Linked DNA regions of Homo sapiens: all the other regions are linked to region 2. Evidence: fine-mapped expression QTL. A gene starts in region 2. Each other region holds a variant in brackets. All regions are shown on one strand. Distances are between the middles of the regions. Region 1 has its middle 38 kb from the start of TSKU. Region 2 holds the start of ACER3 (alkaline ceramidase 3). Region 3 overlaps ACER3 (alkaline ceramidase 3).

Region 1 (2,762 bases), 39 kb after region 2:
TATATATTAATGTTAATATATTATATATTGTATATTATTATAATTATATTATATTATATATTATTAGAATCATATATTATATTATATTATATATTATTAGAATCATATAATATATAACATTTTGGGATTGGATATATTTCATAATTCCTTTGAAACCTTTACAAGTGTCAATAATGTGTTCCTTTATATTGCTATGCAGGATTTTATAGTATGGATATACTATGGTTTCTATACCTTTCACCTGTTGGAGAGCATCAGAGTTGTTTCCCCTTTTTGACTATTACAGATGATTATTATGAAGGTTTGTGTCCAGGTTTCGTGTGAATATGTCTTCATTTCTCTGGGATGAATGCCTAAGAGTGTGATTGCTGGGTTGTATGATGAGTGTATTGTTTAGTTTTATAACAAATTATAAGACTGTTTTCCAGAATGGCTGTGTCCTTTTGCATTCCCACCAGCTTTGCACAAGTGATCCACTTTCTCCACATTCTTGCCAGCATTTGGTGTTGTCACTATTTTTTATTTTAGCCGCTGTGGTAGGTATGTAGTGTTACATCATTGTGGTTTTAATTTGCATTTCACTGATGGCCAATTATGTGGAACATCTTTTAATGTGCTTATTTGCCTTTTGTATATTTTATTTGGTGAAATATCTGTTCATGTTTTTTTGCCCATATTCTGATTGAGATTTTGTTCTTTTTACTGCTGAGTTTTGAGAATTCTTTATACATACTACATATAGGTTCTTTGTTGGATGTGTGGTTTGCAACTATTTTAGCTCAACCTGTACTTTAATTTTTCATCTTTTTCACAGGTTCTTTTATAAAACAAACTTTTAAATTTTGATGAGGTCCAGTTTATCAATTTTTTTCATTTGTGGAGTCTGCTTTTGATCTGAAGTCTAAAAATCCCTTTGCCTAGTCCTTGATCTTAGAGATTTTCTCCTATGTTTTTTCCTAAAAATTGCAACATTTTGTTTTACATTTAGGTCTGTGATCCATTTTGAGTTAATTTTTATATAAGATGTGAGATAGGAATCAAAGATTTAAAAAAAAAAATTGCCTATGTGCAGCTTAATTTTTTTTTTTTTACCAGTTTCTTTTTTTTTTTTTTTCCAAGGCAGAAGAATTTTTCTTAGTACAGAACAAAATGAAAAGTCTCCCATGTCTACTTCTTTCTACACAGACACGGCAACCATCCGATTTCTCAATCTTTTCCCCACCTTTCCCCCCTTTCCACTCCACAGAACTGCCATTGTCATCATGGCCCGTTCTCAACGAGCTGTTGGGTACGCCTCCCAGACGGGGTGGTGGCTGGGCAGAGGGTCTCCTCACTTCCCAGTAGGGGCGGCCGGGCAGAGGC[G/A]CCCCTCACCTCCCAGACAGGGCGGCTGGCCGGGCGGGGGGCTGACCCCCCCACCTCCCTCCCGGACCGGGCGGCTGGCCTGGCGGGGGCTGACCCCCACCTCCCTCCCGGACGGGGTGGCTGCCGGGTGGAGACGCTCCTCACTTCCCAGATGGGGTGGCTGCCGGGCAGAGGGGCTCCTCACTTCTCAGATGGGGCAGCTGCCGGGCGGAGGAGCTCCTCACTTCTCAGACGGGGCGGTTGCCAGGCGGAGGGACTCCTCACTTCTCAGACGGGGCGGCTGGGCAGAGACGCTCCTCACCTCCCAGATGGGGTCGCGGCCGGGCAGAGGCGCTCCTCACATCCCAGACGGGGCAGTGGGGCAGAGGCGCTCCCCACATCTCAGACGATGGGCGGCCAGGCAGAGACGCTCCTCACTTCCTAGATGGGATGGCGGCCGGGCAGAGACGCTCCTCACTTTCCAGACTGGGCAGCCAGGCAGAGGGGCTCCTCACGTCCTAGACGATGGGCAGCCAGGCAGAGACACTCCTCACTTCCCAGACGGGGTGGCGGCCGGGCAGAGGCTGCACTCTAGGCACTTTGGGAGGCCAAGGCAGGCGGCTGGGAGGTGGAGGTTGTAGTGAGCCGAGATCACGCCACTGCACTCCAGCCTGGGCACCATTGAGCACTGAGTGAACCAGACTCCATCTGCAATCCCGGCACCTCGGGAGGCCGAGGCTGGCGGATCACTCACGGTTAGGAGCTGGAGACCAGCCCAGCCAACACAGCGAAACCCCGTCTCCACCAAAAAAATACGAAAACCAGTCAGGTGTGGCGGCGCGCGCCTGCAATCGCAGGCACTCGGCAGGCTGAGGCAGGAGAATCAGGCAGGGAGGTTGCAGTGAGCCGAGATGGCAGCAGTACAGCAGTACAGTCCAGCTTCGGCTCGGCATCAGAGGGAGACCGTGGAGGGAGAGGGAGAGGGAGAGGGAGAGGCAGAGGGAGAGGGAGAGGGAGAGGGAGAGCTGTGCAGCTTAATTTTTTTTTTCTTTTTCTTCTTCTTTTTTTGAGATGAGTCTCACTGTATTGCCCAGGTTGGTCTCTGACTCCTAGGCTCAAGCAATCCTCCTGCCTCCACCTCCTGAAGTGCTGGGATTACAGGTGTGAGCCACCTCACCTGGCCATGCAGCTGAAATTTAATGGTTGCCAATATTCTGTCCTGAGACATAAGTTACTTAAACAGCCATGCTATTGATGAATCTTTAGAATGTCTTCAATATTTTTGCTATTATAAGTAGCAAAATAAGTATTATTGTAGCTAAATCTTTTACTTACCTATAATTGTTTCCTAAGAAGAGTATTACAGAAGTGAAATTACTGAGGCAATTTTTAGGGCATAGGGAACATATTGCCAAATTGCT
Region 2 (2,762 bases):
AGAAAAAGAAGTGGCAGATTTCTCCTAGCCTGGCAGGAAAAATCGTCTAGGAAAACAGACAGACACCCACATAGGCACACAGAACAAGCCCAACCTGACCAGCAGTGCCTGACAGAGCAGCCGCTAAAGAAGAATGCTTAAATCCTCAGAAGGTGCAGTCGGTGGAAGTAGTGTCCTCAGATGACCCCTAACTCCTAGATAGTTGGATAGGACAGAATGGAGCAGGGACTTGGTCCTCTGTGCTCTTGGGAGCCTGGCAGGGGCAGAAGGTACAGGCTAGGTGCAAGATGCCTTCGACTCCTGGTGCAAGATGACAGTTGAATAATCATACTCAGAGAGCAGATGACCTCTGGTACTTGAAGACATCCTGGGGGATAGGGGTGGGATGGTTCAGATCTCAGACTAGTGAAACTGTTCCCTGGAGGTGAGCAAGGAGGTCTAATATTCCAGTGAAAAGGGAAGGGAAAGACGGTAGAATTCTCACGGATTGGGGGAAAGACGAAGCTAGGAACTGTACCCTTCTGGTGGTGGCAACAGCAGAGCAGGTGTCCTGGGCCCTCATTCCAAGGGGCAGGGTCCTCCACTCTCCCAGCCTGGCCCCACTCCGCTCTCGGGCAGGAATTCCCATTCCCAACCCGGCTCTTCAGGCTTTCCCCCTTAGGTCCAGCAGGGGCTCCCCACTTCCCACTGCTCTTCTGCCCCCCCAATCCTCAGGCCCCCTTCCTCCCTCCCAGACCCCGGTACTCCTCCCTCTACACACTGGACTCCCGGCCCGCTCCTCTCAGCCTCCCGCTGGCCCAGGGCGCCGCATTCCAGCTCCCGGGGCCAGGCCTGGCACCTCCCTTCGCGGCCAGGTTCGCTCTTTGCCTTCCTCACACGGCGTCTCCTCAGCCCGGTGCCCTCTCGCCCCCACTCCCCTCCTCAGGCCACACTCACAGAACTCGGCGATGTACCAGGTCACGGAGTAGTTCTCCTCGCACCAGTCCAGCGTGGAGGTCGTGGGGCCCCAGTAGCCCTCTCGGTCCGCGGCCGGAGCCATCACGCCGCCGCCGCCGCCGCCCAGGCGCTCCGCTCACTGTGCCGGGTTAGGCTGGCGACCAGGCCGGCTCCGGCCCAGCCCGCGCGCTCGCTCGCGCCCCGCCCGGCCCTGCCTCCCCGAGGGGCGGGGCCTGGCGCCGTTACTGACACTGCCCTGACGGAGGCCCCGCCCACCGGCGCCGCTGGGCCGCGGGGCCGGGCCAGGCCCGACCTGGTGTAAGGCCCACTCGGAGGGCGCCGGCTGGCCCCGCCCCTCTTCACCCTTGGGCGGGGCAGGGGCGTGATCCAGGAAGGAGCCGGGGGCCTGGGCTTCCTGGCCGGTGCAGACACGCCAATGGCCGTAGGTTGGGGGTTCCTGACATCCCAGAGGCTATATTCTGTCAGGATGTGCCAGAGCCTCTATTTGTGTGCGTGTGGTTTGATTTAATCGGGGCGGGGGTGGGATGAATACTTCTATCAAGCCCTTGCTTGATTAAACCTGTGCGGCGAAGCGCCTCTATGTCTTCCATTGAGCCACAGGCCTCAAATGGAGCCCCAAAACAGAGTACCCCCAACCAATCCCCGTGATTCTCAGGAAATAAACCGTGATTTTCTGATAAAGGTGTAAGTGTCTCTTCGGTACAAAGGGAAAGGGTGAACAACCCAGGACCGAAAAAAAAAAAGTAGGTTCTGAGATCCTAAAAAAAAAGAATGCTGCTAGCTAGAGCACTAAAGCAAAGTTTCCCTGCTTCGTTTGGGCCTCCAAGCACAGAGGTTTCCACGTTCTAACTATAATTGTGCCCTGCTCTTCAGGCAACCAACAGCCTACCCCTACTTCCAACTTCAAGTCTAATACTCCCAGCCCCCGTCTGGGAGTATCGTAGACGGCAAAACCCCGTGTCTACGAAAAATACAAAAATTAGCTGGGCGCGGTGGCTCAGACGTGTGGTCCCAGCTACTTGAGAAGCTGAGGTGGGAGGATCACTTGAGCCCCCGCGGTGGAGATTGCATGCAGTGAGCTGAGACTGTGCCAATCCAGCCTGGGAGAACAGAGCGAGACCCTGTCTCTAAATAAATAAATAAATAAATAAATAAATAAATAAATAAAAAGTCTAGTACTCCACAGGTCTGCCAGAGAGCTCTTCCTAAAACAGATGCAACCACCCTTGCCCCTAGTGTTCAGCTACACCAAACTCAAACTTTCCCCTCTCCTAGAATGCGCTGGGTCACCTGCCTTTGCTCCCACAGTTCAACTGGGACAGCCTAACTCTCTTCTCCGTTTGACCAACTCCCCACTCTTCTTTTAAAATCCAGCTCTCTGAAGCCATCCCAGATGTTTACACCCTAGAGCTTCCTTGCCCTTTGTTCACATCCTACTGTGCTACATCCTGATCAGAGACCTTGCTTTCCCTTCTTTATGGTCTTAGTATTAGGACTCTGCCTGAATACACAGTAAGAAATGAAGAGTAAAAATGAAGGATGATACAACTGCTATTTTCTAAATAAATAAGTCAGATGTGGTGCAAGTCAAAGGTAAAAGAGAGGACAAGGAGAGATGAAGAGCCCACAGCCTTTCTACAAAATAACCATAGCCAATTAGCAGGAAATAGATGCAGAACTTTTATTTGCTAGGTGCAAAACCTAGGGAAGCAGTGTATCTTTTTTTTTTTTTTTTTTTTTTTTTGAGACAGTCTTGCTCTGTCGGCCAGGCTGGAATGCACTGGCATGATCTCAGCTCACCGCAA
Region 3 (2,762 bases), 25 kb before region 2:
CATGGTGGTATGGCTCACGCCTGTAATCCCAGCACTTTGGGAGGCCAAGGCGGGAGGATTGCTTGAGTTCAGGAGTTCAAAACCAGCCTGGGCAACATGCCAAAACCCCGTCTCTACAAAAAATACAAAAATTAGCCAGGTGTAGCGCACACTTGTAATTCCAGCTACTTGGGAGGCTGAGGCAAAAGAATCGCTTGAACCAAGGAGGCAGAGGTTGCAGTGAGCCAAGATGGCACCACTGCACTCCAGCCTGGGCCACAGAGTCAGGCTCTGTCTCAAAAACAATAACAGCAAAACCCCCATAGTACCTTGAGTACCTAGGCATGCTTTGTATGATTTCTCTCCTTTGAAATTCCATTCTCATTCTTCATCAATCCTAGTCTCCCACTATGATCAAAATCCTCCTTTGCAGCCATTTGTTTCATGAAAACGTTTCCAATTTAACAACATCTTCCTTTTCAATCATATAATTGTAACATGCTAACGTATCTCCTAAGTGTTATACTGTCAATGGTATTTCTACCTGACTTGTTCTGAACTGAGTATAAAAAGTTTACTCTCCTGGCTGAAAACACTCCAAAGGCTTTCAACTGCAAATAAAATAAAAGCCAATCTCTTTACCATGGTCTACAAGGCTAACACAATCAACCCCTGCCTATCTCTTCTAATTACTTGCCTTCTTGCCCATCATTCCAAAACACTAATCTTCCCAAAGTTCCTAGACCAAACCAAGTCTATTCCAGCCACAGGGCCATTTGCAGTACTGCCTGGAACATCATTACCCCAGATTACCACATGCGCCATCTCATTCTTCAGGGCTTATGCCAGATGCCACCAACTCAGAGAAGCCTTCCTTAACTACCCTATCTAAAGAAGTCCTCCAGCCATTCTCTATTATATTACCTAGTTTTATTTACAGCATTTATCACAATTAGAAAACACTTATATACTTGGTTAATTGTTTATTTGTCATCTTCTCTCATTAGAATGCATGCTCACGACAACGGCTTTCTTATCTGCTTTCCTCACTGCCATTATGAACAAGTACCTAGAACAGTGCTATGATAACCACGTTTTCTGGCTTCTGTATTTTACGCTTTGGCATCTGGGGCCTTGCTTACCCTGGTGGAATTGCTCCTCCCAGAGCTAGCCAGATAGCAAAGGAGTGCACCTTCCATATGCAAACCAAACAATCCGGAGCCCATAGTCCCAACTACCTCATTTATCAGACTCTTACATGCTAGGCTACTATTCCCCTACCCAAATTACCCCAGGGTCACGTACCATACAACTAGTGGCAGCCCCTACATCCCAGCGCCCACTGAAATTACTCAAAACTAGCCAAGCCTAAGCTGACTCATAATGCCTTGCCTGTTCCTTCCTGCAGGAAGGAATAAAGCTGTATGCCCATGTTTCTCCCCACTTCCTCTGCCCCCCGACTGACCCTGGTGCTTTCCCAAGTGGCCCTACATGGTGTTATTCATCCTGTTTCTAGGAAACTGAGTATAAAAACTT[C/A]TTCCTGGGCAAGGGGAGGGAGAGCATTAGGACAAATACCTAAGGCATGCGGGGCTTAAAACCTAGATGATGGGTTGATGGGTGCAGCAAACCAGCATGGCATATGCACATCTATGTAATAAACCTGCATGTTCTGCACATGTATCCCAGAACTTACAGTAAAATTTAAAAAAAAAACTTCTTCCTTCATGACAGTCATTTCTGTGTCTCTGTGTCTAAACAAACCTGATTAAAACAAATCCCAGGCACCTTTAAATTAAGTGCCTAGCATATAGTACATGCAAATAACATATAAGAATGCAGAAAGGTTGTAAGTAAAGAATAAAAAACGATAATAAATACTTCAAACCAAAAGAACTTTAAAACAAAAAGCATTAGAAAAAGAAGGATCTGGCTGGGCTTTGTGGCTCACACCTATAATCCTAGCACTTTGGGAGGCCAAGGCAGGTGGATTGATTACTTGAGCCCAGGAGTTTGAGACAGCCTGGGCAACATGGCAAAACCCCATCTGTACTAAAAATACAAAAAAATTAGCTGGGCATGGTGGCACATGCCTGTAGTCCTAGCTATCCCAGAGGCTGAGGTGGGAGGATCAGCTGAGCCCAGGAAGTCAAGGCTGCAGTGAACTATGATTGTGCCATTGCCCTCCAGCCTGGACAACAGAGTGAGACCCTGTCTCAAAAAAAAATTAAAAAAGAAAAATGAAAAATAAGAATCCAATTCACCTGGAAGACATCATAATCCTAAACATATTTGCACTAAATTACATAGCCTCAAAATACTTAAAGCAAAAACTAACAGAATAATAATGAAGAAAATAAACAAATCCACCAACATGGTAGAAGATTTTAATACACCTATCTTAATGTTTAATAGATGAAGCAACCTTCACATGCTCCCCCTGTACAAATCAGCAGAGTTACAGAAGACTTTAACATCACAATGGGCTTGATCCAATAGATATTAAAACTAATGAACATAAGAACACTACAATGATTTGGGGGACTTTTACTGTTAGCCATAATGGAGTAACTTGGGACTGGATTTTCCCTTGCAGTTAACAAGCATAAAAGAGGGCAAATGCTATGAAAAAATTCTTTTCAGGCATTGAACAACTAGGTAGCAGAGCAATGTGATCTCTGAGAAAAGGGAAATAAATGAGGTAAACTCAGCTTTCTGGAGGAAGTATTTCTAGACTTTGGTGCAAGGAAAAAAAAAATCCAAGCATAGCACAGCAGTCTTGCAGA

The links.
Region 1: its variant is fine-mapped to the expression of ACER3 in whole blood (TOPMed, PIP 0.90).
Region 3: its variant is fine-mapped to the expression of ACER3 in whole blood (TOPMed, PIP 0.94).

The regions. Positions count from the first base shown.
Region 1 is chr11:76,820,377-76,823,138 of GRCh38, reverse strand. No RefSeq gene overlaps it. Among named protein-coding and RNA genes, the nearest start is that of TSKU, 38 kb to the right of the region's middle. The variant G/A (reference allele first, on the strand shown) is at 1,363.
Region 2 is chr11:76,859,254-76,862,015 of GRCh38, reverse strand. It overlaps ACER3 (alkaline ceramidase 3), which reads right to left and starts at 1,098. Exons shown (of 11, transcript NM_018367.7): 1 at 937-1,098. The coding sequence starts at 1,039. RefSeq lists silencers at 1,026-1,285, 1,326-1,425.
Region 3 is chr11:76,884,214-76,886,975 of GRCh38, reverse strand. All of the region lies in intron 1 of ACER3 (alkaline ceramidase 3), which reads right to left. Among named protein-coding and RNA genes, the nearest start is that of ACER3, 25 kb to the right of the region's middle. The variant C/A (reference allele first, on the strand shown) is at 1,516.